Linked DNA regions of Homo sapiens: region 1 is linked to region 2. Evidence: fine-mapped expression QTL. A gene starts in region 2. The other region holds a variant in brackets. All regions are shown on one strand. Distances are between the middles of the regions. Region 1 overlaps LOC105374218 (a long non-coding RNA gene). Region 2 holds the start of PLD1 (phospholipase D1).

The links. PIP is the estimated chance that this variant, and not a neighbour inherited with it, causes the effect.
Region 1: its variant is the best candidate, but not a certain one, in a credible set for the expression of PLD1 in whole blood (TOPMed, PIP 0.53).

Annotation. Positions count from the first base shown.
Region 1 is chr3:171,918,616-171,923,003 of GRCh38, reverse strand. All of the region lies in intron 2 of LOC105374218 (a long non-coding RNA gene), which reads right to left. Among named protein-coding and RNA genes, the nearest start is that of TMEM212-AS1, 20 kb to the right of the region's middle. The variant G/A (reference allele first, on the strand shown) is at 2,153.
Region 2 is chr3:171,808,091-171,812,478 of GRCh38, reverse strand. PLD1 (phospholipase D1) reads left to right here and starts at 1,996. Exons shown (of 27, transcript NM_002662.5): 1 at 1,996-2,080.

The sequences.
Region 1 (4,388 bases), 110 kb before region 2:
GCTTTTCATTTCGTTTATCTTTTGCATGCTTTTTGTTCACTTCAACTTCATTTAATTCTGCTCTGATCTTGGTTATTTCCTTTCTTCTGCTGGGTTTGGGCTTGGTTTGTTTTTGTTTCTCTAGTTCCTTGAGGTGTGACCTTAGATTGTCTGTTTGTGCTCTTTCAGACTTTTTGATGATGTAGGCATTTAAGGCTATGAACTTTCCTCTTAGCACTGTCTTTGCTGTATCCCAGAGGTTTTGATAGGTTGTGTCACTATTATCATTTAAGTTTGAATAGTTTTTTAATTTTCATTTTGATTTCATTGTTGACCCAGTAATCATTCAGGAGCAGGTTATTTAATTTCCATGTATTTGTATTGTTTTGAAGGTTACTTTTGGAGTTGATTTCCAGTTTTATTCCACTCTCTCAGTGGTCTAAGAGAGTACTTGATATAATTTAAATTTTCTTAAATTTATTAAGACTTGTTTCATGGCCTATCATATGGTCTATCCTGGAGAAAATTCCATGCACTGATGAACAGAATGTATATTCTGTGGTTCTTGGGTAGAATGTTCTGTAAATATCTGTTAAGTCCATTTTTTCCAGGGTATAGTTTAAATCCATTGTTTCTTTGTTGACTTTCTTCTTGATAACCTGTCTAGTGCTGTCAGTGGAATATTGAAGTCTTCCACTGTTATTGTGTTGCTGTCTATCTCATTTCCTAGGTCTAGTAGTAATTGTTTTATATATTTTGGAGCTCCAGTGTTAGGTGCATATGTGTTTAGGATTGTGATACTTTCCTATTGGACAAGGCCTTTTATCATTATATAATGTCCCTCTTTGTCTTTTTTAACTGCTGTTGCTTTAAAGTTTGTTTTGTCTGATATAAGAATAGCTCCTGCTTGCTTTTGGTGTCCATTTGCATGGAATGTCTTTTTCCACCCCTTTACCTTAAGTTTATGTGTGATAGGTGAGTCCCTTGAAGGCAGCAGATACTTGGTTGGTGAATTCTTATCCATTCTGCAATTCTGTATCTTTTAAGTGGAGCATTTAGGCCACTTACATTCAATGTTAGTATTGAGATGTGAGTTACTATTCCATTCATTGTGCTATTTGTTGTCTATATACCTTGGGTTTTGTTTGTTTGTTTGTTTTATAGGTCCTGGGAGGTTTGTGCTTTAAAGAGAGTCTATTTCGATGTGTTTCCAGGATTTGTTTCCAGATTTAGAGCTTCTTTTAGCAGTTCTTATAGTGCTGGCTTGGTAGTGGCAACTTCTCTCAGCATTTGTTTGTCTGCAAAAGACTGTATTTATCCTTCATTTATGAAGCTTAGTTTTGCTGGATGCAAAATTCTTGGCTGATAATTATTTTGTTTAAGGAGGCTGAAGATAGGGCCCCAATACCTTCTAGCTTGTAGGGTTTCTACTGAGAAATCTGTTGTTAATCTGATAGGTTTTCCTTTATAGGTTACCTGGTGCTTTTGCCTCACAGCTCTTAAGATTCTTTTCTTTGTCTTGACTTTAGATAACCTGATGACAATATGCCTAGGTGGTGATCTTTTTGTGATGAATTTCCCAGGTGTTCTTTGAGCTTTTTTTTTTTTTTTTTTTTTTTTCCAAGACAGTGTTTCACTCTTGTTGCCCAGGCTGGAGTGCAATGGCACGATCTTGGTCTTTGAGCTTTTTGTATTTGGATGTCTAGGTCTCTAGCAAAGCCAGGGAAGTTTTCCTTGATATTCCCCTAAATATGTTTTCCAAACTTTTAGATTTCTCTTCTTCCTCAGGAATGCCAGTTATTTTTGGGTTTGGTCATTTAACATAATCCCAAACTTCCTGGAGACTTTGTTCATTTTATTTCAGTCTTTTTTCTTTGTCTTTGTTGGATTGAGTTAATTCAAACACCTTGTCTTTGAGTTCTGAAGTTCTTTCTTCTGCTTGTCTGATTCTATTGCTGAGACTTTCCAGAACATTTTGCATTTCTCTAAGGGTGTTCTCTATTTCCTAAAGTTGTGATTGTTTTGTATTTATGCTATCTATTTCACTGAAGATTTCTCCCCTAATTTCTTGTATCATTTTTTTATTTCCTTAAATTGGACTTCACCTTTCTCTGGTGCCTCCTTGATTAGCTTTATAATCAACCTTCAGAATTCTTTTTTTAGGTAAATCAGG[G/A]ATTTTTTCTGGGTTTGAACCCCTTGCTGGTGAGCTAGTGTGATTTTTGGGGGGTTGTTAAAGAACCTTGTTTTGTCATATTACCAGAATTATTTTTCTGATTCCTTCTAATTTGGGTAGGCTATGTCAGAGGGGAGATCTGGGGCTCAAGGCTGCTATTCAGATTCTATTGTCCCACATTGTGTTCCCTTAATGTCTTCCCTTTTTCCTAGGGATGTGGCTTCCTGAGAGCTGAGCTGTAATGGTTGTTACTTCTTTTCTGGATCTAGTCACCCAGCAGGGCTACCAGGCTCTGAGCTGGTACTGGATGTTGTCTGCACAGAGTGCTGTGATGTGAACTGTCTTCAGGTCTCTCTGCCATGGATACCAGCACAGTATTTGGGTACACAGGAGCAATCCGCTTCCTTCAGAAGGTCTGTCAATTCTCTCGGCTCTCCTGGTATATTCATGCAATAGTTCTGGAGCAAAAGTTCACAATGCAAGTCCCCACATGCTGCTCTGTCCGTCTGAATGGGAGCTGAAATCCAGTCATGCCTCCTATTCACCATTTTCCTTCTTTCAGTTGATCTCATTCTTTTCTATAGCTGAATAGTACTCCATTATGTATATGTACCACATTTTCTTTATCCTTTCATCTGTTGATGGACACTTAGGTTGCTTTCAAATGTTGGCGATTGTGAATAGTGCTGCAGTAAACATCGGGAGTGAAGATATCTCTTTGATATACTAATTTTCTTTCTTTGGGTTTTGTTTTCCCTTTCATTTTTCTTTTTCTTTTTTCTTTTTTTTAGAGGGAGTCTAATCTTGCTTTGTTGCCCAGGCTGGAGTGCAGTGGTGCGATCTGGACTCACTGCAACCTCTGCCTCCTGGGTTCAAATGATTGTCCTGCCTCAGCCTCCCGAGTAGCTAGGATTACAGATGCGCACCACCACACCCAGCTAATTTTTGTATTTTCAGTAGAGACAGGGTTTCACCATGTTGGCCAGGCTGGTCTTGAACTCCTGACCTCGTGATCTGTGCGCCTCAGCCTCCCAAAGTGCTGGGACTACAGGCATGAGCCACTGTGCCCAGCCTTGTTTTCCTTTTCTTATTTACTACAGGAAAATTAATTAAGCTTGTCAACCATATTAATGATTCTGTTTTCTGCCTTGTTAATTCTGTTCTCCACTGCTTCCAGTTCAGCACGCAGTCTCACAATTGCATAGTTATTTTGAAAATGTTCTTTCTTTAGTCACCTGGTTCTCCTTTTAGTCACCTGATTTCCCTTTCTAGCTTAGCTAATTCTTTTCTCAACTCTGCCTGTTACTGATCAATTTATCTTTTATCACTTTTTTCAGAGTGTACATGCATTTTGAAAATTAAGAGCACAATATAGATGCATTTAAAAATTTATGTTTCTAAAGTAGATAGGTTTTTATAGTCTGATCTTCCTCCACCTTTTGCATGCTATGTTTTCTTTCCTTTACACTACAAATTCTCCTGTGGGGTTATGGCAGAATCTGCTAGTTGTCCCTGTGTGTTCCAGCCTCCCTGGTAGCTAGATGTGTTCATAAAACTAAGTTCCAGGGGCTCACGCCTGTAATCCCAACACTTTGGGAGGCTGAGGTGGGCAGATCACTTGAGGTTAGGAATTCGAGACCAGCCTGACCAACATGGTGAAACCCAGTCTCTACTAAAAATACAAAAACTAGCTGGGCATGGTGGTACATGCCTGTAATCCCAGCTACTCAAGAGGCTGAGACAGGAGAGTAGCTTGAACCCGGGAGGCAGAGGTTGCAGTGAGCCAAGATCATGCCACTGCACTCCAGCCTGGGCAACAGAGCGAGACTCTGCCTCAAAACAAAAACCAAACCAAACAAAAACTAAGTTTCAGCCAAAGGGATATAAATAGATATGCTATGTACAACTTCTGAGGAGTGTCTTTAAATAGAAAGAGGAGTGCCTTTTTGCCATATTTTCTTGTAGCTGGAATTCAGATGTAATGACTATAGCTCAAGCAGCCTTCTTCCACAGTGAGGTAGAAACCAAGTGCCAAGGATGGCAGAATAGTAAAATAGAAGCATCCCAGGTCCTTGACACTATTGAGCACTGTAGCAGCTCTCAACTGCCTGCTTTTGAACTTCTTTTAGATGACAGTGAACTAAATTTCATCTTGGTTAAGTTAGTATTATTTTGGGTTTTCTGTCACAGCTAAACCTAGCCCTAGCTATGTGAGAGTTTTCTGTTTATTTATAAT
Region 2 (4,388 bases):
TCACAAAATCTCTCAGGAAAATAAAATAATTACATACAAAATCATACTACTTCTAAAATTCATGTTTGGGAGTCCATAAGCTTCAGTTCATCTCTAAACAACATATGGCATTTCCTATTTTATTCCTCTATCCCAGGGAGGCAGAAATTCAGTTATTGTAAGGGCACTTAGATAATTTTCTTTCTTTCTTTCTTTCTTTTTTTTTTTTGAGACAGAGTCTTGCTGTGTCACCAGGCTGGAATGCAGTGGTGCAATCTCAACTCACAGCAACCTCCTCCTCCCAGGTTCAAATAATCCTCCTGCCTCAGCCTCCCGAATAGCTTCGATTACAGGAACCTGCCTCCACCTCCGGCTAATTTTTGTATTTTTAGTAGAGCCGGGGTTTCGCCATGTGGCCCAGACTGGTCTTGAGCTCCTGACCTCAGGTAATCAACGCGCTTCGGCCTCCCAAAGTGTTGGGATTACAGGTGTGAGCCACTGCGCTTGGCCTTGATAATTTTATTTCTAATTAGATTTAGTAGAAAGACCTATTGTTGGAGGCAAGTGCCAAATGTTTTCATAGTGACACTTAAGAATTTGGGATGCAATTTTATAGACTGCTGCTTCTCAACCAAAAGCATTATAATTTCTAAAGACAAGCTTGTAAGAATGCAGTTACGTGTGTGCACAAGACTTATCAGACCATCTGTGACTAATAAAGCTTGAGAAAGAGGGGAGGAGAGAGGGTATTCTGCCTTCCAGTAACATGCTTGTCTGAAACTTACTAAACTCCTCTTAGGCAATACTCTGCTCAGAGAGTCATGTGTTTAATTGTAAAAATCTGTCAGTATCATAGGATTCAAAAGACATCAATCATTTATGTCAACAAGGAAAGAGTGAGGGCTGTGTGACTCTTCTATCATTAGGAAAAGATGTGCTCAAGAGACAAAAATGTGGTCTAAGGAGGGCTGAGCAACTGTAGGTTACAGGAAAACTGAGTTCCAGACTATAATTTGGCCCCCCTCCCCTAATTTGGACTGGTATATTATATTTTTCATTTCATGCAATGCCATGTGTGCAGTAAGACATTATGTAACTTGGTCAGTCGCAGTTGTGTAATATCCACTAAATGCTTTAAAGTGGCTGACGTTATTAGCAGTTTGGTGCATGGGGAGGCCATTGCTTCCCCTGGCTTTGGCGGGATGCAATATCGTGTAATGAGGTTGGAACTGGCCTATATTCAAAATTACATTCCCAAAGGGCTGCTATTCAAGCCACATGACAACTGGTTCTCTTTTTCTTAAGACTTTATTCTAAGTGGACTGAAAACAGCAAAATTGCCGTGTTTGAACGGTTCCATAGGTGGAATGGGTCTTTTCCCTGTTTTGCTCCCAATTTATTATTTTATGCTAAGATTTCTGAATTATAACCAGTTTTAGAGACATCGGGACACAAATTCCCGTCCCCCTCCATCTAAGCTGTGTGACCTCGGGCTGGTTCTGAGCCTTCATTTCCTTACCTGTAAATTGGCGATAACACTTCCCTAAGGAGGTGCAAGAAGGCTTATAAAGACTCCAGCAAAGCTCCAGTCTCTTAATTATGTCACCTCAGGCAAGTTATTTAGCCGTTTGATTTGCTGATTCCTTACTTATAAGTTGGACCAGTTGTGGCTACTATCCGCAGTAGTCGAAGAATAGATATCATAGGCAAAGCTCCGGGAAAGGTGGCTGGTCCTTGGCGGCTCGAGAGGACCTGATAATGGTCCTAATAGCGAGCATTCCCTAGGGTGATGCGGTCGAGTTATGAAACTTTGGGAAAAGAGAACAAGGAACGCGGGCGATCAGAGGCCCAGTCGCGAGACCTGCCCCGCTGGGGCCTCCAGCCGGCACCGCGACGCCCCGGGACCTGGCACCGCCTCGCTCCACCCCTGCGAATCCGGGGCGAATCCGGGCGGAGAGTTCCTGCCGGCCGCGCAGCGCAGAGCCCCCTCCGGCCCGCCCTCTCTCCCTCCCTCCCGCTGAGCTCCAGCTGTGCCAGAGGCACCCGAGCCCTGAGAGTCCGCCGCCAACGCGCAGGTGCTAGCGGCCCCTTCGCCCTGCAGGTAGGAGCCGCGCCGAGACCCGGATCACCGGGCGCCCGTGGGAGCCGGGTTTCCACTGCCCTCGCCCTCCGTCCCTCCTCCGCCCAACCTGGGCAGCTGGCCGCTCCCCGCCCAACTTGGACGGGATTTCAGCGAGTGAGTCGGCGGCGGACTCCCTAGCGATCCCCAAGGGCCTCCCTCGCACGCCTTCGGGTGGAATTCCTGCAGGGTGAAAGCTGACAACTCTGGCACGCACTTTTGCCGCGCGGGCGGCTGCCTGGAGCGCAGAGCCGCGCAGGCTCAGGCTGAAGCCCAGGCGTCCTCTGCAGGATGCACCGCCTCGCCGCCACAGGGCTTCGGGTGCAGTGTGTGTGGTGTCCCCAGGTCATCCGGGCGCCCTTGGTTCGGGTGCGCGGTGGCATGACTGGGCTGGTGGGGGCGATGGGACCGGCATCCCGTACCAACCAGGAAGTGCCGCGTCCCAAGGCTTCGAGCCCAGCCCGCAGAGCACGGTCCTGGGGGTGTGATCACAGCTGCTGACCGCGGCTCCCGCCGTGTGATGTGACCACTCGGAGGTGGGGCGAGGGGGCCGGGGGCCAGCAGCAGGGAGTGTGTAAAAGGTCTTCTTCCTCACAATACGATTGAAGGTGTTTGGGACGTAGGGCTCAGATCCAGGAGTGCCGTCCTCCAAGCCTTCCATAGGATTTTGTGACGCCCTTGAGAACCGCCCTTGTAGACTCAGTCCTGAACTACCGCCACGCCTGTATTTGCTCCTCCTCATCTCGGATTATTGCTTTCTTTACTTCCTCTGTGAAGCACTAAATACTAGTAGCTTTTTAAGAACAGACCACAACAGTTTCTTCGTTTGACCATTACTAAGTCTGCCTCCAAAATGGGGAGTTCCGTTAACTTTATCAGCCAGCCCTGCCAATTTTAGTTAAGATAAGCCTTCGTGGGCCTCCAAAGGCCTCTGAGAGACTAGGTACCCAGAGACCTCTGAGGTATGTTAAATGGTTTAGTTCGTGGTGGTGCAATGAAAACTTAAAGAAGGAAAGGAATCTGCAATTTGAACTGTTAACAGACCCCACATTTACACACTGCCTATTTGAATAAGAATCTCTTTCAGTATTAAATGTTTTGTGACACACAAATGAATTTGTACACAGTCTTTTAGCTTGAATTTGTAGACAGCCTTTAAATGTTGTTTGGGGATCTTTGGACTAATTGTATAAGCGCTCAGTCTGGCTTCTCAAGAACCAGTACAGTTAACAATCCATATAAAAAGTTGGAGTGCTGCCTGGGCGCGGTGACTCACGCCTGTAATCCCAGCACTTTGGGAGGCTGAGGCGGGCAGATCACCTGAGGTCAGGAGTTTGAGACCAGCCTGGCCAACATGGTGAAACCCCGCCTCTACTAAAAATACAAAAATTAGCCAGGCGTGGTGGCACACGCCTGTAATCCCAGCCACTCGGGAGGCTGAGGCAGGAGAATCGCTTGAACCCGGGAGGCGGAGGTTGCAGTGAGCCGAGATGGAGCCATTGCACGCCAGCCTGGGCGACAGGGCAAGAATCTGTCTCAAAAAAAAAAAAAAAAAAAAAAAAAAATTGAATGCTAAGGCTTTGAGGAAAAAGTGTCTTTACAATGTTTGTCCCTGATGACAGAATAATTATGAACTATAGTAAGCGCTGTACAATGCTCATTTAGGTTTGTAGACTTACTTATAACCAGGTAGTGGGGAACCCGGCTTCTTGGAAGTTGTATGTTTACTTAGTGTTTCTTAATTAAAATTACAAATTTTATTTACCTTTAACTCTTATAGGTAACTTTTATTTTTGTTACAAAGGAAAAGTAGGACTGTCATTATTATTATTATTATTATTTTTTGAGACGGAGTCTCGCTCTGTCGCCCAGGCTGGAGTGCAGTGGCGCGATCTCGGCTCACTGCAAGCTCCACCTCCCGGGTTCACGCCATTCTCCTGCCTCAGCCTCCTGAGTAGCTGGGAAAACAGGCGCCTGCTGCCACGCCCGGTTGATTTTTTGTATTTTTAGTAGAGACGGGGTTTCACCGTGTTAGCCAGGATGGTCTCGATTTCCTGACCTCGTGATCCGCCCGCCTCGGCCTCCCAAAGTGCTGGGATTACAGGCGTGAGCCACTGCACCCGACCCTATTTTTTTTTTTTAATAATTTGAAATTTTATTTTAGATACAGGGGGTACATGTGCAGGTTTGTTACATGGACATACAGCATGCAGCTGAGGTTGGGGGTACAACTGGTCCCGTCACCCAGGTGGTGAGCATAGTACCTGATAATTTTTTAACTTTTGCTCTC